4 linked regions of the Homo sapiens genome follow. The protein of the gene in region 2 purifies or fractionates together with the protein of the main gene of each other region. This does not show direct contact. Each region holds a gene or a part of one and is shown on either strand. Other genes may lie near its edges.

The links.
Region 1: the proteins of ST8SIA1 (region 2) and NMD3 purify together in Homo sapiens (affinity purification with mass spectrometry; 3 studies listed by BioGRID and IntAct, with this or other methods). This does not show direct contact.
Region 3: the proteins of ST8SIA1 (region 2) and ZMYM2 purify together in Homo sapiens (affinity purification with mass spectrometry; 2 studies listed by BioGRID and IntAct, with this or other methods). This does not show direct contact.
Region 4: the proteins of ST8SIA1 (region 2) and POTEF purify together in Homo sapiens (affinity purification with mass spectrometry; 3 studies listed by BioGRID and IntAct, with this or other methods). This does not show direct contact.

Annotation. Positions count from the first base shown.
Region 1 is NC_000003.12:161,231,283-161,238,310, reverse strand, and holds part of NMD3 (60S ribosomal export protein NMD3), read right to left. Parts: intron 4,913-7,028; coding exon 4,832-4,912; intron 3,585-4,831; coding exon 3,456-3,584; intron 3,190-3,455; coding exon 3,099-3,189; intron 199-3,098; coding exon 120-198; intron 1-119. UniProt on the Homo sapiens protein: Acts as an adapter for the XPO1/CRM1-mediated export of the 60S ribosomal subunit.
Region 2 is NC_000012.12:22,198,690-22,205,717, forward strand, and holds part of ST8SIA1 (alpha-N-acetylneuraminide alpha-2,8-sialyltransferase), read right to left. Parts: intron 3,350-7,028; coding exon 2,863-3,349; 3' UTR 1-2,862. UniProt on the Homo sapiens protein: Catalyzes the addition of sialic acid in alpha 2,8-linkage to the sialic acid moiety of the ganglioside GM3 to form ganglioside GD3; gangliosides are a subfamily of complex glycosphingolipds that contain one or more residues of sialic acid.
Region 3 is NC_000013.11:20,080,699-20,087,726, reverse strand, and holds part of ZMYM2 (zinc finger MYM-type protein 2), read right to left. Parts: intron 5,712-7,028; coding exon 5,597-5,711; exon of another isoform or gene 5,591-5,596; intron 4,947-5,590; coding exon 4,695-4,946; intron 4,072-4,694; coding exon 3,951-4,071; intron 1,906-3,950; coding exon 1,713-1,905; 3' UTR 1-1,712. UniProt on the Homo sapiens protein: Involved in the negative regulation of transcription.
Region 4 is NC_000002.12:130,126,203-130,133,225, forward strand, and holds the start of POTEF (POTE ankyrin domain family member F), read right to left. Parts: upstream 3,021-7,023; 5' UTR 2,870-3,020; intron 1,663-2,869; 5' UTR 1,507-1,662; intron 1-1,506.

The sequences.
Region 1 (7,028 bases), on a different chromosome or scaffold from region 2:
TGTAAGTATTTCTACTACGATTTTAAATAAAGAGAAGTTGTCTGAGCCTGAAGAATATATGTGATCCGCATCCATTCCCAAGTCCTTAGATTTAGTCACATTCAAGGTTCAGAACATACCTACAGGGAACTGTACACTGAAGAAATTCGACCATCTTCTGAGCATGTTGTTTTGAGGAATAATAAAAATCCAGACCATCTTAAAAAAAAAAAAAAAGCCCTATGAAAATAATTATGCAAAATAGGATTCTCCTCTACTAACATGACTATATTATAAATTACATCTGTTTTAAACAAAATCAAATTATTAGAAAACTCTATTGTAGTCACAACAGATTAGAGATATCACTTAAGACTTCTTTGGCAAAAAGACAGACAAAATAAATCAGCAAATGAAAATAAAACTCGTAATTCTAATTCTAGAAAAAATAAAACTCAAGGCCAAGGGGGACAGAAAAACAAAGAACAAAGAAAGTTTATGAACAGCCGGGTGCGGTGGCTCATGCCTGTAATCCCAGCACTTTGGGAGGCTGAGCTGGGTGGATCATGAGGTCAGGAGATCAAGACCATTCTGGTGAAACCCCGTCTCTACTAGAAATACAAAAAATTAGCCGGACGTGGTGGCATGTGCCAAATCTCAGCTACTTGGGAGGCTGAGGCAGGAGAATCGCTTGAATCCAGTTGGCGGAGGTTGCAGTGAGCCCAGATCGCAACACTGCACTCCAGCCTGGGTGACAGAGCAAGACTTCATGTCAAAAAAAAAAAAAAAAAAAGAAAGTTATTTTATGTAATAAATGGAATAATCTACCAAGAAGATAACAGGAAACTATCTGAGAGATAGAAAACAAAAAGTACTAGAAAAAGAAAAGAAAAAATTAACAAATATTAACACATACAATCATTGTGAAGGACTAGAATAGGACTCTCTCAAAACCAAAATAATCATATTGACAAAAAATAGTAACAATTCACAGAACTTGAATAACCAACTATCAAGGTCGAGTTAACTGAGATTATAGAACACAGTTCTAAGAAAGAATACATATTTTATCAAACATTCATAAAACATTCATTTAAAAATCATGTATTAAGATTTTAAAAAGAAAAAGAATTTCAATAAATCCTAAACAGTAGAAATTACTAAAGACAACATTATCTCATCATAAAACAGTAGCACTAGAAATCAAGAAAGGAATAGCCAAAAGCAAACCTACCTAGCTGAGAAATATTAAAGATATTCTTGCAAATAACTAAATATAATTACCAAAACAGCCAATACTAAAATTACCCAGAATAGCCAAAACAATTTTGAAGAAAATGAACATTACACATTTAATGTCAAAACTCACTAACTTTAGTAAGTATGCAAGATAGCATGGTACTAATATAAGGATAGATATATAGATCAATGGGAGCAGACTTCAGATTCTAGAAATAAACCATTACATTTACAGTCAATAGATCTTTGACAGAAGACCCAAGGCATTCACTGAGGAAAGGACAGAGTTTTCACTGGGATGAAGAATATCCACATAGAAAAATATGAATTTAGACACTTATCTCACACTCTGCACAAAAATTAACTCAAGAGTTAGACCTAAATATATAAGACCTAAAACTATAAAACACTTGAAAGAAACTATAGGAGAAAATCTTTGTGACCTTGATTAGACAAACAGTTTTTAAGCATAACCCCAAAACCACAATTAAAAGAAAAAACTTGATAAACTGGACTTCAACAAAATTTAAAACTTTTGCAATTCAAAGGACACCATTAAGAATATAGAGTGTGAATTTTCTCCTACACACTAGGAGAAAATATGTGCAAACCATATATGCAGTAAGAGACTTGTATCCAGAATATGCTCAACATCGTTAGTCATTAGCAAAATGGAAATTAAAACCACAATGAGATACCACTTCATACCACCCTCTAGAATGGCTATAAACAAAAATATAAGAACAAGTGTTGAGGAGGATACAGAGAAATATTGGCGGCAGGAATGTAAAATGGTACAGCCACTTTGAAGCAGTTTGGTAGTTTTTTATATATAAACATAAATTTACCATATGACTTGGTAATTCCACACCTAAGTATGTACCCAAAAGAATGAAACAGCTGAGGTGCTTGCTGAGGGCAAATAAAATATGCAATGGGCAGTGGAAAAAGGTAGCTATAAGTACCAGCTACAGACCCATTATAGTACTCAGAAGAAAATTTATGATCTTAAATATATGTATTAGAAATTAAAAATAAACTAAGCTTTCAATTAATTAAAACAAAACAGAACTAAATAGAGTTGAGGGAATTAGTGTTAAAAACAAAATTAATAAAAAGATTGTTTAAAACTAAAAATAGTTTTTTGAAAAAACTAACATAATAGATAAAAGTAGCTAGTCTAAGGTGAGGTGAGTAGAAAGAGAAAAGATAAACATTAGGAACAATAGAGAGGACATAACTACAGTTACGGATGAGATTTATTTTATTTGTTCAATTTTATACCAAGAATCTAAAAAGCTAGATGAAATGGTTTTTCTTGGAAAATGGTATTAAAATTGACTCAAGGGGTAGAATACCTGAGAGGTGAATATCATAAAAGAAACTGAAAAGACGTCCCTTAGGAGATATCAAATTGGATGGCTTAATGGGCAAGTTCTTAAAAAACTTCTAGAGGTTAATTAAATGCTAGGTAGAAAGAAGGCAAGCTTTCTTTCTAACTCTTTTCAATGTCACTCACTTAACTGAGAGCAAGATTGGACAGAAGTATGTATGCATATGTATCAAACAGAAACCTCAAGAAATATCATACTTAGGTATGAAACATAAAAAGATAATTATGTTTGACATTAGCAGAAAATTAAAAATTCAGTTTCTCAGTTGCTCTAGCCACATTTCAAGTACTCAACAGCCAAATGTGGCTAGTGACTATACCATACTGGACAGTGCAGATAAAGAATTAAGTTGTTTTTTTTTTTTTTCCTAACAGAAAGTTCTTTTGGACAGTACTAATCCAGATATTATCAGTAAATATAAGATTACTTAGGTATGTTGAAATAAAAATCTGACATAATTTCAAATGCTTTTGAGTTTTAACTCACCATGAATCTCTTTGATACGAAGTGTATTCTGATGCATTCCATATTTCAGAATTAACTGTTCCAGATAGTAGAAAGTTTTTTTATGCAAAGTCTAAAATATAAATTATTTGATCAATAAATGCCCCACAAAAAAGCCATTTATAGGTATAGGACACACATACTATCTACAGATAGAGCATACTGATTTTTCAAACAATAACAATCTTTAAAGATTATCTAAAATGTAATAATGATCTATTTCCAAAGGTGAATGCTTCAGGGACCCAGACTATCCCTGGATTTAGAAAGAAGGAAAAGTTATAATTAACAAAGACGAAATATAAGATGTAGGACTCACTCATCATCTTCTCTCATTACCTTTTGCCTCACTTGAATCACAGCCTTCCAGAAATCCTTAGCTTCTACTCTATGGCAATCTCCACACATTTGGGACTGAACAACATAATCCACCACAAACACTTGTTGAAGGATAGCACCATTCATCACCTGATAAAACAATTACACTCCTTCATTCTTTTGGTTTTGTTTAATAACAAATATTTTCTTTAAAGAAGAACCTTTAATATTTAATTTAAAACTTTTTCCATTAATGCTTTGAGGACATCAATCAAATGTCCTCAAATTTAAAGTCATAAAAACAAGTTATACTATTTCAAGAACGGTATACAGATTTAATTCCTAAGATTTATTAGATTAGCATTTCAAATTTTCCTTTAGCTGAAGTGGTTGTGAGAATATTCTGTGTATATTTTACATATATATATATATATATAATTTTTTTTGAGACAGGGTCTCACTCTGCCTGTTGCCCAGCCTGGAGTACAGTGGCACGATCTTGGTTCACTGCAACTTCTGCCTCCTGGGCTCAAGTGATTCTCCACCTCAGCCTCCCAAGTAGCACACACCACCACGTCCAGCTAACTTTTGTATTTTTAGTAGAGATGGGGTCTCGAACTCCAGGGCTCAAGTGATCTGCCTACCTTGGCCTCCCAAAGTGCTGGGATCACAGGTGTGAGCCACCATGCCCAGCCTATACATGTTTACATAGAAAAATCATCCTTAGAAGAAAAAAATAAGGAAAACTTCTCAAAAAAAAAATTCCTTAATTTAATGATTCCCAAACATAACTGATCAGAAATCACATGGGAAGCTTTTTAAATACAGATTGAACATTCCAAATCCAAAAACCCAGAATCTGAAATTTCAGCTTCAAAATCTGAAACTTCTTGAGTTTCTAAATGACACTCAAAGAAAATGTTCACTGGAACATTTTGTATTTGAATTAGGGATGTTCAACCAGTTAAGTATAATGCAAAATTCCAAAATCCAAAAAATCCAAAATCTGAAACACTTCTTGTCCCAAGCATTTCAGATAAGGGATACTCAACCTACTTATAGATTCCCGGCCTCACATACAGAGAATTTTTGCTTCAGTTATGATGAGTCATTACAATGATCAGCCAAGTTTGAGGATCAGTACCTTAGACCATGTTTTTACTTCAATCCTTTCCTAATAAAAATAACTCTGGAAAAGTAAGTCTGCTAATCAGAAGCAATGACTACTCTTACTAGTGATCTAATTATTTGTACAGATGCTCAAAAGAAAACAAACAGCTAAAATTGAGTGTACTCTTTTTCTTTTAAGCTGTTCAAGCCATAAAATAACTTATCACTGGGTCTTCATTTTCACTACCTGCACTTTAACCATGCTGAGAAAATTATGTACTGCTTACCTCTTTCTGAATAGTCAGTTTAACTTTAAGTCTCTTAGAATGAGGCTCAGTCCAAACAAAGCCTGCATCTACAAGCCGTACCTTCAATAAAACACAAACAAAAAGAAACGTAAGTTCTCACCTAGGAGGAAAAAAAACACGAAAGAACAAATCATCAATAAGCAGATTTCATAAGATGCTTAAGGAATCTGTGATCAGCATACTACACACCATCATCACAAAAAAAGATTAATCATTGGTTACGTAACAACAGCAGCAAATCAAAGGACAACCCAATGACTATATTAATGCAACTGATATAATTTAAGCAAAAATTAAAGTATTTGCATAGGAAAAAAATTCTTTTCCCTTAAAAAAAAAAAAAAAGTACATTGTCCTTTAAAAGGAAATTATATTTTTTGGAGGAAAGCAAAGACCTTGTGACCTCATTATTTATTAGTAACCTCATGAACAAAAGTTTCCACTTGGATTATTCTCTCTATATTCTGTGACTTTTTTTAAGAAGTGACATTGATTAGAGAAGTTGCATGCACTGAATACTAAATCCACAACTATAACTCACTACTAAATCTGCAGCATCTGCATAGGCCAAAACAGTTTGCTATATGTGAAGATCTGAATATAACTCAAGAATGGCCAGAATGGGTGTTTGGGGAGAAGGGGTGGGTGGGAGAACAAGAATGGAGGCTGCTGTAATAACCTGGGCCAGATTGTAGATGATCTGAACTGAGAGGCACTGGAAATAACAAAAGCAGATGCAAGGGCTAGTTAGGAGATAAAAATCTGTAAGATTTATCTGCACAGTCCAAGTGATGCAGAAAAAAAATCTGTAAGATTTAATGGTAACTGGATATGGAAAAGAGGAAGAGAACAGACTCCAGAATGATGCTCAAGTATTTGCTTAGACAACTAGGCAGTACACTTTTTGTGACTACCTATACCGAAATAAACAATGGATATAATGAGAAAAAGATGTTACATTTGATTTCAGACATTTCAGTTTAAGACAGTATCTGTGAGATACCCAAGAGGACTTTTCAGTGAACAGTAAGATACAATTGGTCTGGAGATCTATAAAAAAATTTGGGCTGCAGTTAACAGATTTGAGAGGTATCAGCAGCAGATTATACTTTTATCAAGCACTGTCTGGTAAAAAGTAGACTGGCCACTTTTAGTGTAGATGCAAAGATTCAACACACCAGAGTAAAACCCTCCTCATATAGCTGGCCTCCCTAAAACAAAGCCTAGTAGTTAACAAGTGATGCCAGGTACACAGGGTGATAGGCAGATTCCTATTCCTTCAATCTCCATCAGCAGTGGTTAAAAAAAAAAAAAAAAAAAAAGCCCCAAAGGCACTGAATAAGACTGATCTTCCCCTCAAGCTCCAACCTCCACCTGCAGGAATGGAGAGTCTCCTTGACATCCTGCTCGGCATTCCCCAACACAACCACTGCACTATGTGTCCTCAGACAACCATGACTAATCAACTTTATTAGTCCCTTTCTTTCTTTACCATAGTCCCAGACACCTCAGTCACCCCTATTTCCCATACTCCAATTTCCATATGGTTATGCATATTCCCTATTCTGTCCCCATCTAACACTCCTCCCCGAATCCTAAAACCCTTCTACTGTGCCCTCCGGAGCTCAACATTCATTAACAATGAAATCTCCTAAATCCTCAACTTTGCTGAACATTCCCTTCACCTTCTAGATCTCCTGATTTCTCTCTCCCCTGCAGCTATATAAAGTGATAACTGATTCTTCCTATCACTGGACCAGGCACCAGACAGCTATCGTCCTTGCTCTTCATTGCTAATTACAGACCATTCTCCTTGTCTCCTCCTCAAATATACCCAGCTCTAAGTCTAAAGTCATTAGACTCTACCACCCGCAACTCTCTTTTTTATAGTAATCTATTCATCTTTGTATCACTTGTTTTCATTTCTCAAAAGATTTTAGCTTCTGGCTCACCATCACACTTTCCAACAATATTAATACCTAGCGATTTCAATATCCACACAGGTGATCCCCACAATACCCTGACCTCTCACTCCATTCTTTGAGTTCTTCTTCTCCCAAAATATTATCCACCTTCCTATCTCAGTCACTCATATGCCTCTATTACCAGTAACTGCAAACCCTCCAAACTATCAATTCCAAACATCCTACTCCCTGACTACCACCTCCCATCTTTC
Region 2 (7,028 bases):
TCTATCTTTAAGTGAAGACAAGGTGGAACAATCAAAATTTCATTTTGGTCTAATCCAGGTCTAATCCAGGTCTGAGATGTCAACCTTGATACTACTGACATCTCAGCCTGGATAATTATTTTGCTGTGAGAGGCTGACTTGTGCATTGTAAGATCTTTAGCAGGATCCCTAACCTCTACTAAGTACATGCTATTAGCACCCTTGAGTCATGAAAATAAAAAATGTCTCTGGTCTCCAGACATTGCCAAATGTCACCAGAGAGGGATAATGAATCACCCCAGCTGAGAAGAGCTGGTCTAATCAAACATCACCAGCACTGGCCATTTCTGTTTTGCCTTTCAGAACCCACATGAAATAGTTTCACAAGTTTGTAAACTAAACATTATATATAAATCTACTGCATAAATCTATCCCAGGCATCATAAAAAGATGAAAAATTTCCACATAATATTTTCTTTCTTTTTCTTTTCTTTTTTTTTTTTTTGAGACAGGGTCTTGCCCTGTCACCCAGGCTGGAGTGCAGTGGCACCATCTTGGCTCACTGCAACCTCCACTTCCTGGGTTTAAGAGATTCTAGTCCAGATGATATTTTCAATGGAACTGTGATGTATGGGCTCTATGGAGCTCATTAATTACATTTTAACAATTAAAGTACTAATCTGAGTAACATTTTATTAACTTTTATATGCGTTTTTGTTAAGCCTTTTATATTTTTAATGGTAGACTAGTAAAAATGTATTCTTTTTTAGGTAACTGCTAAATAACAGTAGCTCAAAAGAGGAAACATATTTAAAGTTTCACTCAAAGTGAATATTTAACACAATTTCTTCATGGTACATTCTCATTATGTTTTTGCTGCCGTATAGCAAACCAGTTCTCCAATAGCATCATTACTCTCGAATTCTTAACTTTCTAAGTAACATTATAATCTGCACTATCAACAAGTCATATTTTAAATTCTAATTTTTATAATAACCTCACTATTTAATTGCATTTAGAAATGGTCTACTTCAATGATGTAGAATTTTGCCAAGGGCTTTCCTATGTTTATGTCATGTTAAATTAACCCACAGAAAATACCAGCCATTATTGTTTACGTGGTAACATGGTATGCTGAGTTTTTACTGTTAAAATTAAACTAGAACTTTTTGGTACAGTTTACCTACAATTTAGTGACATTTAAAATAAAAAAGAAATTGAACTCTAGTGTCACATTTTAGCTTAAGACATTCCAAAGTATGAAGACAACGAGAGGCTTCCCTTACCCTTCTCTGAAATGTAAACACATTTGGCTGCTTGTAATCTGTCAGTAGAGTTTTCTTACTGTGTATCAAAGCTGTTGTAACAAGCTAAGTAGTCCTACCTGCTACTAAGGAAATAAATAGCTACTAATTCACATTTCTTTACTTGTACAAACTATACCTTGTGTGACCACGCTCAACAGCAAGCCCATTCATGAGATTTTGGGTAAAATCAGGATGAGTAAGACAATTCTGCTCATTCCGGGTAAGCATTTGGGGGTAAGACTTGCATCTTGTGCTGCTATGGGTATTATGTGCGGCAACCAGTGAGCTCGGTTGTCTTATATCAACATGTAATGGATAGTGCATAACACATTTGTGATTCTCCAACACTGGTTACAAATTTTTGCCATACCAGGTCATATGAGTTCAGCTTTCATAGTTGCACAGTAATGAGCTTTGTTTAACTTTGTGTGTGTGTATGTGTGTCTACATGTATGCATACATGTTAAGCCTTTTACATTTTTAATGGTATACTAGTAAAAATGTATTCTTTTTTAGGTAACTACTAAATAACAATAGCTCAAAAGAGGAAACATATTCAAAGTTTCGCTCAATTCATTCTTGCATGTATGCATACATGTCCTTTACCTTGCAGTGAATATGCCACAGTAGATAGAAAAGGGATTTGTCTTCTGGTCTGTCTTCCACAGAGACTAAGCTTTTCATCAACGTGCTTTACTGCATTTCTGAACATTAAATTATGAAGACAATTATGCCAATTTACAAACAAATAATTCACTCATATTGGTAGTCTTTTGCACTAAAATAAAAATGACAATGCAAACAGGCTTACATAATGCAGACCTAAAATTGGGTTTATGTCCTAAATTCTGAGGAAGGAAAGTGGCTCCTGTTATCCAGACTATGAAGCAACACAGTCTAAATTCAATAATGCTTCACATTGTCTCTGTGGACTTGACAAAAGAGGAAGAAGCAATTCTTATGTAAAATTTTAAAAATAGAGGGGAGCTATAGTTAATATAGACGTGGCTCAACAAATCACAATTATCAGCAGTAACATTTTGTATCTTTATTACTCAGGAAGGGATTTTTTAAATCTACCCACCCACTTCCCCAAAGAGGGCAAAAATAAATAATAATTTTTTAAAAAAACCTACGGTTCTAAAGCCAGTCTTAATAAGACAGGTTCTTATTAATATTATTAAGCCAGTTTGTGTTGACAATCAGCAACACTTTTACCCCAACATTTTCTTTGTTCTACCTTGATTGGTTCCTCAGCCCTAACAACTCGAGTCTGTCTTGTTTTTGAACTGCATCTTCTAGATTTGAACCATGTGCTTTACCAACAGCATTTCACCAGCATTTTACTAGTTGCAAATCTGCCATGTGCTATAAAGTATTTCATAGGATGTTTCATTTCTTATTTGTCCTCCAAGCCAACGCTGAAAGTAAAGTTTTGCTTGGATCTTCATTGCTCCTTTCCTGTTTTTCCAAGGGCCCATGCAAACTCATGAAACAACTTGACCATTCCCTCTTGGAGTCACATAGAAAACCTAACAAAAATACCCTGGTTCAGTCCTTTCTTCTTCCATTGTTCCTAGGAAGTGGGCTGGAGTGAGGTATCTTCACATGGGTCCAGCTGCATTCTCAGTGCACCGATTTTATGAAGATACCAGAGTTGGAGAAATTCCTCGGGCATGGCATGGAAGCCAGAAAAGGGTAAGACGTTGTCATAGTAGTGGTGGCTGATGGGCTGCTCATGCATATTCACAGAGAAGGGCCAGAAGCCATAGATGGCCACCTCTTCACAGAGACCCAGAGCTGCGCTCACCAGAAAAAGTCCTGTGGACAGGCGCTTGGCATGGATTCCTCTACTTTTCCAGAACTTTCCAATGCTACGCAGAAAGTTGGGGTTGGCAAACAGCACTGTTTGATTGGCACCAACATCTGACAGTGTATAATAAACCCTCAAAGATGGCTCTGTTCCTGTCTTCATAGAAAAGGCAGGCATGTAGATGTAACTGTGGTTATAAATTTTCATGTTGTCCACAAATGTCTTTCTGGACCACAGAAGGTTCTGAAACCTATTGAAGAAAAAAAAAACTGTTCAATTAAACCTAGAGAAAAAGAAACTCACCAAAACCCACTCTGTTGTCTTCTGGTGGCCCTGATACCTCAAATCATCTCAATGAAACACATGAAAAACACTTTATTTGTATTTAAAATCCTCCTTGAACTTATCAATTATCTCTCATCAAATAGCCTGACTTTTTCCCTGACCCCAACTTCTTAAAACGCAGTTAACATTTGTTAATGGGGCTCCCTCTAAACTAAAATGCATTATACATTTGTTCTCTCCCAGAACGTTTTTGCCTGAAATGGAAAACGGTTTAATTCTCATAAATTCCTGAAGGTTGTTGGCTGGGATTTTGATGAAAGGTACTTAGGTGGTCTAACATAACCACAAGACTGGTTTCTTCATCTGCAAATCAAAGGAATCACTTCTAAGATACCTCTCCCCACTGAAATTCTATGATTCTATAAATATTCAGATTCATCAATGCTACAACTATAATATTACATGGAAAAAGGAAAGCTTGTTACTATTACAAAATGATGCAGGGAGTTGCCCATATTGCTTGCTCCAAAGAACTCTACTTTCCTATGTTCTTTCAGTTTGGATTACATGAAATTCTAGTGCAGTTGTAGAAACAAAGATACAAATAAGTACAATAGAATGTTCTAAATACAATGTTGATACTTGTATAAAGTACTATGGAATACAGATGAAAAAAATAATTCTGCCTGGAAAGAGGGAGTGTGGTCCAAGAAAGCTACAGAGTGGGAATAACATTTAAATACACTTCTTATAGGGAAACAACAGAAAGAACAGCAACTAAACTCGAAGGGATACTTTGGTTACAGGCAAGAGTACGCAATATACTGAGGCAATGACAAGGATTCCCTGTCCCTAGAATGTAGGAGGTGCTAATGGCGGCAGCAGTGGCTGAAGACAAGGCATTCTTCGAAAAACGTCTTATATCTGTTTTGTTTGTTAGAACATCACTCTGTGGTGACAGGAAATCTTCACAGCAGTGACTGCTTACAGCACTTATGGCAACTGTCAGTCTGTGTAAAAAAAAGGTACTCTAATAGAATAGAAGATTACCTTGGAAGGAAGAGGCTGGTAGCCTGGAGACCAGGTAAGAGGCTGCTAATACACTCAAGTTAAAAAAAAGAGAGAGAGAGAAAGAGAGGGAGAGAGAAGGGTAGAGAGAGAGAAAAGCAATGACCTAGATTAGGGCCTTGCAACTTTTAATTCCTTTCACCATGGGAGCTGCCCATCTTGGGTTATATGCAGGTGGAGCAGCAGCATCAAAGAATAAACTGAGCCACAACTAGCAGAGGAAAGTCTGGCCTGACATGTTGGCAGGCTCATCATAATTATGTGAAATTAAAGTTCTGAATACACAAATCCACAGGATTGTATGTAGCAATCAGCATTATTGACTCTGCCTGCCCAGAAAGGTATGTTTCTCAAGGCCAGAAGGAAGGGAAATCTCTCAAGTTGTCTTCATGTCCTTGATCCAGTAGCCTGCTTTCTTGATCCAGTAGCCTGCTTTATCAATTTTTCCCTGGGTCCTGATACAGAAGTAATAACAGGGTCTTTAGGTAGATTCACTTTAACTTAGAAGAAGCCATGGAAGCACATTCAACCATATCTGGAGCTGGGCCAGCCTCTCCAATACAAATTCCTGCTTCCCAACTTCCAAATGGGCTCTGCTTAGCAATTCCTTTCTTCCATCGCCCACCCATATCTTCTAATATGGGTGGCACTAATGCTTTCCCAATCATATAGACACACTGTGTAGATAACCTGCTACTCCATTTGAGCCATTGGTTCTCACACTTTAGTTAGAATAACCCAGAGAGTTCACTAATATCACAGCTTCCTGGGTTCTGATGAGAGTGATCCAGGGGCTGAATTTTTACCTAGTACTCCTGGGTAATCTGACACAGGTGGGACATACTTATTTAGAAGATCAAAGCATCAGTGTAAGCTGTCTGGCTTTCTGCATCCATCTCTCACCACCTTTTTCTTTACATCTTCTAATCACATCCTTGCTGCCATTCTAAGAAGTGCTCCATCTTCCCCTCTGTATCTTGAGACAAGCTGTTTCACATATCCTAAAGAACTCATGTTCCAAAGTGGATCTCTCCTCTTCAAAAAAAAAATCAACCTCTCCATCTCAACTGAATTATTTCCTCTGTCTTCTAAATACGGTTAGAACTTTCCCCTTCAACGCTACTAAGGTATATTTTACAAATAAAAATCGTGTATATTTAAGGTATGTAATGTGGTGTTTTGATATGCACATACATTGTGAAATGATTACAACAAGCAGGTTAGAACTAAAAAACTCTTCTTAATATGCTCATACCGTTCCCAGTGCTACATTCTCATTCTGTCATTTCACCATCAACCTTCTAGAGCAGTTAGGATACCTCTATTGCTTTCCTTGCTTCCTTCCATTCCTCCTTATTCCTGTACAGAATGGCTCCCATTTCACAGGGCCCTGCTGGCTGATGGAACTGATCCCTGTCTCTGTGGACTACATACTAGCAGAGAATTACACACTGCTTCAATAAAGTCAAGATGATTGATTTTGTGTTTCCTGTCTTAAAGCCAACTGATTAGTCTTGAAGGGAGTAGTTTTCCCTTTCTGTGTTTTCACTTTGAAAAGGAACACACAGCTTGAATTTACTATAGTCCTAATTTTATTGACAGTTATTATTTTTACCTCTCCCATTCTGTGACAAATGACATTATTATTTAAGAATTAGATTCAATTCAATAATTGTTATGGTATACTGAATATGTTTAATATTACCCTGATCAAGAGTTTAATGGGGTTGGTATTGAATTTTATTACATTATTACAAAATTAAGCTGGAATTAGAAAAGAGTGGTGCTCCAGTTTGTCTCTCCAGCCTCATACTCAGCTACTCCTCATGTCCTCACCCTATGCTCCAGCCATCCCTGTGTGTGTACCTGTCCACAATTTTTATTGCATATATTCATTTTTGCTGATCTAGTCATTGCCCTGGTGAAGTTGTGCCTATAAATCAAAACTCAACTTAAGCTTTCCTTTATTAGGCTTATTCCTTCCTTCCAACTTAAGCTTTCAAAAGTCTTCTTTGAATTCCTGAATAATAATTGCTCATACTCTCTAAGACTATGTACTCCTTGAAAACAAAGGACAAGTTCTATTCATCCTTTAATTTTTATAACGTAGCTCAGAATATTTGTGTACTATATGAATAAAAAACTACTAAACAGTAATTTTTAAAAATAAAAAAGAAATCAGACCAGCCTATGAATTAAAAATAAAAATGAAGATCAGCCCATGAATTATTAAAATAGAAATGATTAATTTATAATCAATATGAGCATAAAAGGAAAAACAAAAACAGAGTGGAAAGGACAAAAGTATAGCACATTTTATAAAGGAATTGAATACATGATAATGGGGACAAAACCAATAAGATTTTTTAAATTACTTAATAAACAATATTGAGATAGTTAGCTAACAATTTGGAAATCTGAGAGGGAACAGATTCATACTTCACGAGACAATTACCAAATAATTTTAAGATAAGTAAGATAGATATTTAAAATCTAGCTGGCACAGTGACTCAAGTCTACAATCCTAGCACTTTAGGCAGCTGAGGTGGGAGGATCACTTGAGGCCAGGAGTTCGA
Region 3 (7,028 bases), on a different chromosome or scaffold from region 2:
AATCAAGGGACTGAAAAGTCATTCAACTTATAAAACAAGTTAGAACATTATAATTTTTTATGCCAAAACATTCAGATAATTATTGCTTAGATATACAATAATGACACCTGTGAAATTTTCCAAATCAGAATTGAGAAAATTTCTTTTGTGTGCTGTAACATTTATCCTATGGGAGAGAGGAGTATCTAAGGATGTGTAGCAATTGCTAGCCACTATGGAAAATAGCTCAATTTTCCCCTGAACAATTTCTAAACACTAATGCTACCATGGTCATTCAGGAATCAGAAGAAAACATGATTACACACATGCTAGAAAAGAGCCAAATGATTTCAAGATAATTTGCAGCTAGCACTTTGTTCAGTCTTTAGAAAGTAGATTTTAAGTTTCCTTATTCTAAAAGAAAAGGTCTGAATGGATAAATTGCTATGCAGAAGCACAAAGTTGTTTTTTTTTTTAATGCAATCTTCTATAAGAAGTAATTTCAAAAGCCAAACAATCTAACATTAAATGGGATTTCCTCTGAGACTGACTTTCTCTATTAGTTTCTTTGTTTGTTCCTCAATCATTTGCAATATCAGAATTACTACACTGGTAATCTTCATTATAAAATGTGATCCTATCTTATTTAACATAGCTTGACTTTCTGTAACTATTTCAGGAGTGGAATTTCTAAAAACAATTTTATCCAATGTAAACAGGCACAAGAATTCTGATAAAATTGCTAAGTTTTAGAGTACTACACAGCTAACATTGCAGCATGATCTGTATCCTTAAGAGGGAAAAAAAGAAATAAAAATCAAACCTCTATAAATGAAGAGGATTTCAGATACTTATGGCTGGCATAGAAGAAAACAGAATTTTATACTTTCACCAGACATTTTTACAAAGGAAATGTCTTGATGATCTTGTTTTCAACTTACAATCATTTATATATATATATATATATATATATATACACACACACATACATACATATATATACATATATATATTTGTTTTTTATTGATTGGGTGATGCAGAAAGCCACAAATGAGAAAAGGACACTAAGGTTTTAATAAGGGGAACAAAAAATTGTTTTCACCAGCATAGATTCACATTACAGTACACCAATATTGACAGCATTCTCTTGTCTATTTTTGGTACAGAAGATGGTATCTCTCTACATAACCTTGTAAGGCTTCAGTAACTAAAATGTAAAACCAAACAAAACAAAACCCCAAAACAAAACAAAAACCCCAGCCTATTAGTTTACAGTTTATTTTAAAAATTCCGAAAGACACTGCAAGTTCTAAACTTTTAGTAGTGCTACCCATACACAACCATCTGGTTAAGAACCCAGTAAAAGAGCCCCCTTCCAAGGAAGCTTTGCAACAGTAGAGTTGTGCAATATGGATGTTTCTTACTACAAGAAAAAAATTATACATGGCACATTCTCATTCATATTCTGTAATGTAAAAAGTTACAAACATACCTAATCAAATAAATAATAATAAAAAAAGAATTTGAATGTATTTGTTAAGTATCCTAAAACCACTACATAGAATAATGGCAACTTTCACTCACAGATTATTTACATGGTAATACCCAGCGTGGGTACACTGCTACAAAACTCAAAACAGAAGGAGTAAACTTGAAATGTTTTCCATAATAAAGATCTAGCAGCATGACTATCTAATGCTGTTTTATCCCGATTGCTTCTGCAACGTTCCTTTTTAGTCTGTGTCTTCATCCAGTTCATAATTGTCTTTATCATAAATATCTTTTACTAGAAGAACCCGTACAAGCATATTTTCCAAGGTGTTTCGGTCCAGTGAAGTAGACGTATACCAGACAGGGCTATCTGTAGAACTAGAGCATTCTGGTTGCAAATAAAAAACATCCATCCTCTGATTAAGATTCTGTGGACTTTGGAGGCGGGAGGAAAAAGAGAAAAAGTCAATTTCACAAAATTTCCACAACTTTTTCTTTTTTCAAGAATAATTCAGACCCCATTAATCACGTTATATGACCAGACCCCCTATGCCCCACTGTCTCCATTATTCTGTCATTAAAATATTCTCAAAGTTATTTTCTGAGATAGAGATTATTTCCCACAATTTTAATTCTACTTCACTAAATCCAAGACACTATCAATAGACACACCACTCATTATTTTAATGCTACCATTAAGCAAGTGAAACACTGCCAATTATGATTTCAAGATGCAACAATTTAAACTGTGCATCCCAGTTTCAGAAATAGTGAAATGTGAAAATGTCTTAGAATTGATGAAATATGTATGGCAGCACATAAAATTAAAAAATTCTTACAGCACTACATAATAGAAACTCAATTTTTAAAATACCAACAAGGTAATAGTGAGATAGGAATTTCCTACTAACAAATAGTTACTACCAACTGAAGACCCTGACACTACTGCAGCCAAATAGGACCACCCTAAACCATGGTGAGAAATACAGGCTGAGCATCCCTAATTCAAAAATCCAAAATCTGAAACTCTTTGCCAAAATGACACCAAAAGTGGAAAGTTCCACACCTGACCTCATGTGAGGAGTTCGCGCCCAAAACACAGGCACATAACACACAGGTTATTCAGCAACCCCAAGGGGAAAATAAAATCACCTTCAGGCTATGCATAAATAAAATTATCTTCAGGCTACATGTATAAGGTGTATATGAAATATAAATGAATTTCATGTTTAGAGTTGGGTCCCAGCCCTAAGACATCTTATAATGTATATGCAAATATTCCAAAATCCGAAAAAATCTGAAATCTAAAACACTTCTGGTCAGAAGCATTTTGGATAAGGCGCATTCAACTTGTACTAATATCATCCTATACATGATACTATTGTTTTTACAAGTCCTTGAGGGCCATCCTGGGGACCTGTGATTTATAAATTTGTTTAAACAGGGAAGTACATTTTGAATTCATGCTGACCTTCTGAAAATTAGAGAGTGCTTACTTAAAACAACAGGCAAGCATAAAATAATCTATGGTCTCTAAACGTTTTATTGGCTTAAACTTTTTAAAATGCCTGTTGGTCTGAGATTGAGGGGAAAAAAAATTCCAGAACATGATTCCATTTTTCATACCTGCTTGACTGTTTTCTCTTAAATGTAAATACTTCACTTACATTTCCACCTATCTATACTACCTTTGAGCATACCTTTACACCGGGCATTGGCAAACTACAGCCAGCCACCTGCTTATGTGAAGTTTTATTATAACACAGCCACATGCCATGAATTTATATATAGTATATGGCTGCTTTCTAGTCACAAGAGAACCGATTAGTTACAATAGTGATTCCATAGGCCCAAAAGCCTAAAATATTTACCATCTGACCGTTTAAGAAAAAGTTTGTGTCCCTTGCTTTGCTGTCATTGGAATTGCTGTAATTTAAAAGACAATGACAGGCGCAATGGCTCATGCCTGTAATTCCAGCACTTTGGGAGGCTGAGGCACGAGGATGGCTTGAGGTCAGGAGTTCAAGACCAGCCTGGGCAACACAGTGAGATCCTGTCTCTACAAAAAATACAAAAATTAGCCAGCTATGGAGGCACATGCCTGCAGTCCCAGCAACTCAGGAGGCAGAGGGTGGGAGGATGGCTTAAGCCCAGGAGTTTGAGGTTGCAATGAGCTATGATCACGTGCCACTGTACTCCAGCCTCGGTGAGAGAGCAAGACCCCATCTCCAAAAGAAAATGACAGCAGTAGAAATTTCATTAGTAGAGAGAGATTTCTTAACACATGCTTAAACTCTAAGTATGATGTATAAACTGGGTATTTCAAAATAAAAGATTATAACTGAATGAACTTGGGTATAACTGAGAGAGAAGAAATCTGAGAAAGAATCCATCTAAAAAAGTCACTTCTTGGTAATGTTAAATTTAAACCAGCCAACTTCTACCAACATTTTTAAAAGTTAAGTATCATTAACACTCACCTTTTAGACAAGTAGCATTCAAACATTTTCACAGGACATCTGGAAGGATTGGCTGTGTTTTCAATTTGTTCAAATACTGGCTCATCATCTTCATGTTTTCTTTTTCCAGTAGTAATTTTATCTTAAAAAATAAAAGTGAAATAAACCTCCTAAACTAATCTTGAAGAAAGATATAAACATCACTCCTAGTGTCTGTTATACCAAAGAATAGGACCAGGTGCCCCTTGGAGTTTTAAGTTATGGCTTCTGGTAATGTACAATTTTTCAAACAAAAGGAACTGAGACATCTTAAGACATAGGTTGTCTTATTTTATAAAACTGACAGTCCTTAGGTTCTTAACAAGTGACCCAGGTGGTCTTTAGTAAGGCAAGGTTTGGATATCCCTACCATAGACAATCCCAAAATAGAAATCTGGGCCATGCGTGGTGGCTCACGCCTGTAATCCCAGCACTTTGGGAGGCTGAGGTGGGCAGATCACCTGAGGTCGGGAGTTCGAGACCAGCCTCACCAACATGGAGAAACCCTGTCTCTACTAAAAATACAAAGTTAGCCAGGCATGGTGGCGCCTGCCTGTAATCCCAGCCACTCAGGAGGCTGAGGGAGGAGAATTGCTTGAACCCAGGAGGTAGAGGTTGCGGTGAGCCGAGACTGCACCACTGCACTCCAGCCTGGGCAACAAGAGTGAAACTCTGTCTCAAAAAAAATTTAAAAATAAAAATAAAAATAGAAATCTGTTACACTACCTTCATTATCTGTTCCACACAAGGAAGACACTTGGTATCGAAGACACGCTTTGTTTTCCATCGTTAAAGGATTTTTTTTCCAATGCCTAAACACAGTGCCAAAGGAAAGTCTTAAGTGTTGTTCCACTGTTTTCAGGCCAAAATACTTAGTGTTAAAGTAGAACAGTGTATTCAGAAGAGCTACTGGAGAGTGTGATCCTAGTTGTTTTATCCTCCAGAGATAGTCTTCTTCAACTCGAGAGAATATTGACCCTTAAATAGAGAGAACTATTTTAAAAGAATTATAATAAATAAAAGTTTTCATTTAACCATCTAGAAGCAGACACAGTTAATTTAAGGACAAATCTATACCAATTCTCCTTTCATATTAGATCAACTAGAATAATTCTAGAATTACCTATGCAGCTCTTTAACAATACAGAGGCTACTATGGAACTATTATCTATGGAATAAGGGACTGGATGTTTGCTTCTGTTCTTCAGTAGGACAAGCAAACAGTGGTCAGAAAACAGTGTAAATCCTTTTAAAATTAAAATTCAGGAATTTAAATTCCTGAAAAAAATTGATGACTCCACATACATACACATTTTCTTCACGGACTGAAAACAGTGGTTTAAGAGAAATTTACATCAGAAGCTCCACTGGAAGGCTTAAGACATGAACATCCAGTCTCGTACTCCAGAGAAAGTAGATTACATTTCTTACAAAGTTCTTCATAAACACTAGTTATTGACCACATTTGTTTCTAATTCAACAAGAGATGAAAGGCAGATGAGCTCGAGTAAGTGTTCAGAAAATGTTATCTAATTTAAGTGACTTAATTATAATATTTTCAAACATACTCTGTAAAAATAACAATCCTAATATCAAGAGAGCAACACCTTTAGTGAAAATAGCATTACCATCTGGAAGTATGCTTGGTTGCCAGCTTCGCAGTATTTTATTCAATTCTTGCTCAAATGTTTGGTATCCAGGATCAATAAATATGTTGTCTTTTCGATTACTTCCACACAAATACTATAAAAAAAAAAAAAGCCCCACAAACTTTCTTGAAAGAAAATCAGCTAATTATAGTAAACATATTACACTCCGTATTTCTTAAGAAAAAAATAAAGCTTTATGTCTTTGAAATGCATACTAAAACATGACTGATTTTATGTATGCACCTAGAAATTATAAAGAATCATAAATTATCAACAAATCTGTTGCTTGAAACACTCAAAGCTGAAATACACACCCCAGAATCAAGAATGTAAAAACTGGATGACAATCTTCAGTCTGTCAGACAGAAAAAAAAAAGAATATTTGACTCCCGTGTTTATTATATAGTGCATGAAGAAAAATGTAAATTTTAAAATAAAAGTGTTTTTTTCTTTTTAGTTTTTTTTCTTATAAAGTAAGAGTTATAATTAAGGTAATGACTAAAGAAAAACACTGAGTGGTAAGAATGAGAGGAAATGTTATCTGTAGCTATTGAAAGCTCTCTTCTAGCACTCTGACTTTGTCAGGCTAACGCTTTTTTCTTATTGTCTCTATATTCCTAATTCTCCACCTGTAAAACAGTGCAAATTTATGAATCTTGTAACTTACTGTCACAAACCTAGAAAAATCTTAACAGTGAGGGTGGTTACAGAATCATTTAAAGTATAAACATTAGTGGGGCTTAAAGAGAAAATAACATAAAATTATATGATAACAGCACAAAGAATGGAAGGCAAGAATTGGGAGTACACTGTTCTAAGGCTCTTAAACTACATGTGAAGTAATATAATATTATTTGAATGCAGACATGTTAATTAAAGATGCAGATTGTAAACCTAAGGTAACAAGTAAAACTTAAGAGGTACAAATAATAAACCAATAGTGGAAATAAAGTGGAATCACAAAACATATTAATTCAAAGGAAGGCAGAAAAAGATGGAAAAACAAAGAACAGATAGAATACAAAACAACCAGAAGGATAACAGATTTTAATTCAATGACAGCAGTGATCATATTACACTAAGCCAAGGTTAGGAAACTAGAGTCCTGGAGCCATATCTGGCCCATGCCTATTTTTATAAAGTGTTCTTGGAATACAGACATACTGGTTCATTTGCATACTGTACAGCAGCTTTCATGTTACAGCATAGTTGAATGTCTGCATGACATACAAGCATGACCTGTAACCATGTACCATTTGGTCCTTTATTTAAAAAGTCTGTTGGTCCCTGGTCTAAACAGCAATTAAAAGACAGATACTGGGGTGGGAGTGGTGGCTCACACCTATAATCTCAGCACTTTGGGAGGCCAAGCCAAGCAGACAGCTTGAGCTCAGGAGTTCAAGACCAGCCT
Region 4 (7,023 bases), on a different chromosome or scaffold from region 2:
TGAGGCAGGAGACTTGCTTGAACCCAGGAAGCGGAGGTTGCAGTGAGCCGAGATCGCCCCATTGCACTCCAGCCTGGGCAACAAGAGCAAAACTCCATCTCAAAAAAAAAAAAAAAAAAAAAGAAAGAAAACAAAGGAAATGGTGGCAGAGAAAATGAAGGCAATACAGTTCACTTAATAATCTCATAAATTAGAACTTACCCCGTGACTCCTGCATAGCTCCAAATATGTGAGAGAGATGAAATGGCTGTTTGCCACCAATATTTTTATGTGATGCTTCATTTTTTGATTCTCTGAATAACTACTTACAACGCATTAGCCCATTTATGCCAGAGGCTGCAATTTTTTGAATTTTTGCACGAGTGAAAAATCAAACCTTCTAATGACCTTGAGCAGTAGGATGTAATTAACTCCCTCATGCTTACCATTCCAATAATGGAACACTAGGCATAAGTGGTTTAACACAATCGTGAAAGCATAGCTATTCAAGTAACTAATTATACAACTGATTTTTTTCCTCATCCCTAAAACATAGTAAAGGACCAGTTATTTTAAAAATACAACACAGTGACAATTTTGGCTTGTTGTTTGTTAAGGCCATTGCTTGGCATAAAGAAAACAAAAAGAGGAGGAGAAACAAGAATAGAAACATGAAATAGAAGCAGCAGCAAAAGAAAATGAAGAGGAACAAGAAGATGAGAAGAATACACAGACTAGAATAAGCAAAAAGAACAGGTGCAGGAATTAGAAGGCCTATTATGACACCTTTTATCCCCTCCCCAATTCACAAAATTTGAAAAAGTCCAAGACCATCACAACAAAAAAGAAGGAAAAAATGGCCGGGAGTGGTGGCTCACGCCTATAATCCTAGCACTTTGGGAGGCCAAGGTGGGTGGATCATGAGGTCAGGTGATCTAGACCATCCTGGCTAACACTGTGAAACCCCATCTCTACTAAAAATACAAAAATAAAATTGGCTGGGCGTGGTGGCAGGCGCCTGTAGTCCCAGCTACTAGGGAGGCTGAGGCAGGAGGATGGTGTGAACCCAGGAAGCAGAGCTTGCAGTGAGCCGAGATCACACCACGGCACTCCAGCCTGGGCAAAAGAGCGAGACTCTGTCTCAAAAAAAAAAAAAAAAAAAAAAAAAAAGCCACACACACACACACACAGTCACCCCCTAAATTTTGTTAAGAATGAGACAATGCTGCCACTCATGCCTGGCTCAGAAGGAGGCCACCCTCCAGAGATTGCAAGAGAAGGGGGAGGACTCCTTTCCCTAAGTGCACCTCCACCACTGCCACCGAGGCCCATGGTACAGCACCAGCAGGTTCGTCCCCACCCCAGGTCGGACTGGGCCCTGCAGTGCTCCTACTCCCCCTTCCCAGTCCCCAGACTTTCTGCCACTACCACCACTAGCACCAATGCCAATACAATTGCTGTCGCCATCAATGCAGCAGCCCACCCTACAAGGTTCCTACCACCTTGCCCCCGCGGGCACCCTCCTACCACTCCTGTCGAGCTGCAGTCTCCGTGGCTGCCATCAGTCACACGAGGCGAGCTGCAGAGTCACGCCACATGCAGGCTCCAGCGTACCACAGGTGATTCCTTCTCCTCCTCCTCCAGCCTGGCTTGGAGCAGCTAGACGGGCAAAGCCAGAAAAGCCTAGAATGGGATGCAGGGAGTGGTAACGTTAGAGCCTCACCTTGTCATGCTGGCCACTGGGTGGCAGGGACCAGCTTCAGCTAAGGCACTCAGACCCACCCACCGAAGTCCAGCCTCTCTTTCTGGCAAAAGGTGGCCAGGAACTGGGGCGGGTGTGAGTGCCTATGCTGAAACCACCCCCATCCAGGTGCAACTGGCCAGAAATTGCTGGGCCCACCAGGGCTGCACTCCTTGGGGAGCAGGAGTAGGAGAAACTCAGACCCAGCCAGCCCTCCCCACTCAACTGCTGGTTCCCATTCCTGACACCTCCACCCACAGTGCCCTGTTCCCACAGTCCCCCGCGATGCCCACTAATCCCCACCCGGTAGTCCCAGGTGGTCTCCCCAACACAGAGCATGGGGTGTGGGCGGGAGGTGCAGGCCGGAGAACCGCAGTGGGTGTGGGGGCCCTGCCCTGCTCAAGATTGCACCAGGAGGAACTCTGGAGTCTGGAAAAGAGAAGAGTCACCCGAAGGAGCAAGGAGACCATGGCTGTTGCTGTCCCCACCACCTCTGCAGCCGACCAACACCACTGGCAGTATAGCCCCCATAGCAACCCTAACCTGACCCCTGCCGCCGGCAGTGTAGCCCCCGGACAGCACACCCACCACACCCTGTGCCAGTTGCAGGCAGTGTAACCCCAATACCCCCCCCAACCACCCCCTCCACAGGCAGTGTAGCACCCGATAGTGCCCACAACCTGACCCAGCCACAGGTGTTGCTGCACAAGACAATGCCTCAAAATCGCCGCCCCCACCCCACCACAGGTAGCGCAGCTCCTGATAGCGCACCCTGAGTAAGGGCAGTGCAGCACCCGACAACACTCCTAAACCACCCCCCGCTGCCAGCATTGTAGCTCCAAATAACCACCAAAACCACTCCCTGCCCCGGGCAGTGCAGCAGAAAATAGTGCCCCTAACCCCTCCCCCGCCACCGGCAGTACACGTTAGTGCACACAACCTGCCTCCCCCCCATCACCCCCGCCACCACGGGCAGTGTAGCCCCGGACAGCCAGCCAAAACCGCCCCCCTCCACCGCCAGCAATGCAACCTCGGAGAGTGCCCCCAACCAGCCCCCTGACACAGGCAGTGCAGCCTCGGGTAGTGAGCCCCAATAGGACACCCAACCCCTGCCCCCACAGGCGGGCAGTACATCCCCGGATAACTCACCTACACCAGGACATTTCTACCACTCTGGCCGAGCTGCAGTGTCCCACGTCACCACCAAACACAGCAAGGCGAGCCCCAGGGGCTCAGGCTCCAGCCTCCAGCATGCCGCTCCCTTCTACTCGTCTTCCTGCCTGGCAGGAGAAGCTCCCGCTACTGGTTGCCCTCCTACCACTGTCGACACCACCAACTGCAGTGAGCCAGTGTCCGAGGCTCCAGCCAGAAACAGGTAGCAGCCATGCCGGATACCAAACGCCCACACTTAAGAGCCTGAAATGACCTGACGCCACCTCCGCATGCTTTACCTACTGAGGTTACGCACATGTGGTTCCCAGACTACATGTTCTGATTGGATGAGAGAAAAACCTCTAGGCCTACTCTGATTGGACTTTATTTTCATGCTGTGATTGGTTGTCTTAAGACTGGCTCTCATCCAATCAGAACATGATAATAAAGTCCAATCCAAGTAACCCTGGAGGGTTTTTCTCATCCAATCAGAACATGCAGTCAGGAATCCTCCTGTATATAATCTCGGTATATGACTGCTGCTGAAGGGAAGTCAGGCTCTTCCACGTTCCCGTATTTTCCTGTGGAGCTGCTCAGTGCCCGGCTTAGAGGACCAGGAATGGGTAATCACCAGCCGTACGCTGGAGGCTGGAGCCGCTACACCGTGGCTCGCCTCGCTGCGACTGGTGGTAACCGCGACCGAGACGGCAGTGCGGCGGAAGCGGTAAGAGGAGGAAAAGAGTTTTGGGATAGATGGAGGGGGTAAAGAGGGTGGTTAGTGCCAAAGGGAAAAGAGGATAGTGAGCAGGAGAGCGCGTTGCAAAAAGGCGGTGGGGAAAAGATAGTGGGAAAAAAAGTTTTTGGGTAGATGGAGGGAGAAAAACGGGGTGGGGAGCGGGAGGGAGGGAAGGTTTTGCAGAAAGATGGTGGGTAAAATGTTTATGGGTAGATGGAGGAGGAAAAGAGGGTGGCAAGGGAGGAGGAAAGAGAGGGTGGTGGGGGGGAGAAACAGCGTTGAGCAGTAGGGAGAGAAGGTTTTGTGAAAAGACAGTGGGGAGAAAAGGTTTTGGGTAGATAGAGGGGGAAAAGAGGGTAACAGGTGGGGGAAGGGAAAAGGGTAGCCAGCGGGAGGAAGACAAGGTTTTGCAAAAAGATAGTGGGCAGGAAAGAAAGACGGTGGAGAAAGAAAAGACAGTGGGTAAAAAGTGTTTGGGTAGATGGTGGGGGGAAAGAGGGTAACGAGGAGGAGGAAAGAGGGTGACGAGAGGGAGCAGGGAAAGAGAGTTGGGAAAAAAATGGGAAAATAGTTTGGGGTAGATGGAAGGCAAAAAAGAGAGTGGCAAGCAGGATAGGGCAAAGAAGAGGACGAGTGGGAAGGGGGGAAGACTGTGAAAAGACAGTAGGGAATATTCTGGGGGGTGGATGGAGGGGGAAAAGGGGAGGTGAGCAGGAGTGGGGAGAAGGCTTTGCGAAAAGACTATGGTGAAATGTTTTTGGGTAGAGAAGGGAAAGAGGGTGGCAAGGAGGAGCGGGGGAAAAGACGATGAGGAAAACAGTTTTCGGGTAGATGAAGGGCGAAAAAGTGGTGAGCAGCAGGAGTGAGGAGAAGGGTTTGGGAAAAGACGGGAGAAAATGTTTTTGCTTAGATGAAGGAGCAAAAGAGGGTGATGAGAGTGGGATGGGGGAAAAGAAGGTGGCCAGGGAGAAAGGGAAAAGACGGTGGGAAAAACAGTGGGGAAAGTGGGTAAGTGGATGGGGAAAAGGGTGGTGAGTGAGAGAGCAGAGAAGGCTTTGCGAAATGACGGTGGGGAAAAATGGTGGGGAAAAAGTTTTGGGGTAGATGGAGGAAGAAAACAGGTGGCGAGGGGGAGGAGGCCAAAGGCGGTCGGGAAAAGAAGGTGGGAAAATAATGGTGGGAGACAAAGATTTGGGGTAGATTTTTTTTTAATCAGATTATTTGTATTTTTGCTTTTGAGTAGTTATTTATATATTTTGTGTATTAGCCCCTTGGCTGATGCATAGTTTGCAAATACTTTCTTCCATTCTCTGGGTTGTTTCTTCGTTCTACTGATTTCTTCCTGTGCTTTGCAGAAGCTTTTAAGTTTTATGTAATTACATCTTTGCTTTTGTTGCTTGTGCTTTTGACAAGTTTAATGTAATTACATCTTTGCTTTTGTTGCTTGTGCTTTTGATGTCTATTTGAAAATTCCTTGTCCTAACCAGTTTCATGAAGGATTTATCCTATGTTTTCTTCTCTAGTAGTTTTATAGTTTCAGGTCCTACATTTAAATCTTTATTTTGAGTAGATTTTTGTATATGGTAAGATAACGGCCTAGATGTATTCCTGTACATGTGGGTGTTGAGTTATCCTAGCAGTTTATTGAAGAGATTGTCCTTCCCGAATGTGTGTTCTTGGTGCCTTTGTTAAAAATGAGTACGCCATAAATGGGTGAATTTATTTCTGATTTCTCTATTCTGTTTCACTTGTCTATGTCTGTCATTCCTTCGTTTCTGTTTCTCCCCCGCCCCTTTTTTTGATAGTATTATGCTGTTTTGGTATTACCATGCTTACTACAGATTTGTAGTATGTTTTGAAGTCAGGTGTGATGCCTCCAGCTTTTCTTTTTATTCCAGATTCTTTTGTCTATCTGAGGTATTTTGCGTTTCCATGTGAATTTTAGGATTTTTTTTTTCTATTTCTATGAAGAATGTCTTTTGTAATTTAACATGGATTGCATTGACTCTCTAGATCACATTGGGTGATATAGACATTTTAACAATATTCTTCTAGTGCATGGACATGGGATATCTTTCCATTTACTTGTGTCTGCTTTAATAGCTTTCATCTGTGTTTTAGAGTTTCCATTGTGGGATCTTTTGTCTTTTTGGTTAAGTTTATCCCTAGATATAATTTTTTTGGTAATGAAATAGCTTTCTTGATTTCTTTCTTAGGTATTTCACTATTGGTGCATGGGCGTGCTACTGATTTTTATATGTTGATATTGTATCTTGCAACTTGACTAAATTATTTCTAGTAGGTGATTTTGTGGAATCTTTAGGGTTCTCTCTTTCTCTGTGTATATATATGATCATGTCACCTGCAAACAAACAGTTTGACTTCCTTTTTTCCAATTTGGATGCCTTTTATTGCATTCTCTTGTCTAATTGCCCCACTTAGGACTTCCAGTACTATGATGAATAAAAGTGGCGTAAAAGTAGCCACACTTGTTCCAGGCCTTAGAGGAAGAGTTTAAACATTTCCCCATTGATTATGATGTTAGCTGTGGGTTTGTCATATATGGCCTTTATTGCGCTGAGATATGTTCCTTCTGTACTCATGTTGTCCAGTTTTTGTCATGAAGGAATGTTGATTTTTATTTTTTTCAGCATCTACTGAAATGATTATATGGTTTTTGTTCTTGATTCGCTGAATGTGATGTCGCACATTTATTTGTGTTTTATTGAATCATCCTCATATTCCTGGGATGAATCCCACTTGATCATGGCAGATCATCTTTTTATTGTGTTGTCAAGTGCAATTTTCAAGTATTTTGCTGAAAATTTTTTTGCATCTGTGTTCATCAGGGATATTTAAAATGCCTGTGGTTTTCTTTTTGTGTTGTTTCCTGGTCTGGTTTTTGTACCATGTACCAGGGTCATGCTGTCCTCATAGAACAAGTTTCGAAGACTTCCTTTCTCTTCATTTTTTGGGGAATATTTTGAGTAAAATTCGTATTAACTCTTTAAAAAACGTTTGGTAGAATTCAGCAATAAAGCCATGATTCTTGTGTTTTTGTTTGATGGAAGACTTTTTATTACTGCTTTAATTACATTACTCATTATGGATCTTGTTCCGGTTTTTTGTTTATCATTCTATCTTGGGAATTTGTTATGTGTCCAGAAATTTATCACTTCTCCTAGATTTTCCAACTTGTTTTTATATAGGTGTTTTTAGTAATCTCTTACAATCCTTCATATTTCTGTGTTATCCATTGTAATGTCTCCTTTTTCATCTATCATTTTGTTTTGTTTTTCTTTTCCTTAGTCTAGTTAAAGCTTGTCAGTTTTGATTTTTTTCTAAAAAATCCAGCTCTTTGTTCCATTGACTTTTTGTATTTTTTGTTTCTATTTTTAAAATTTCTTCTCTAATC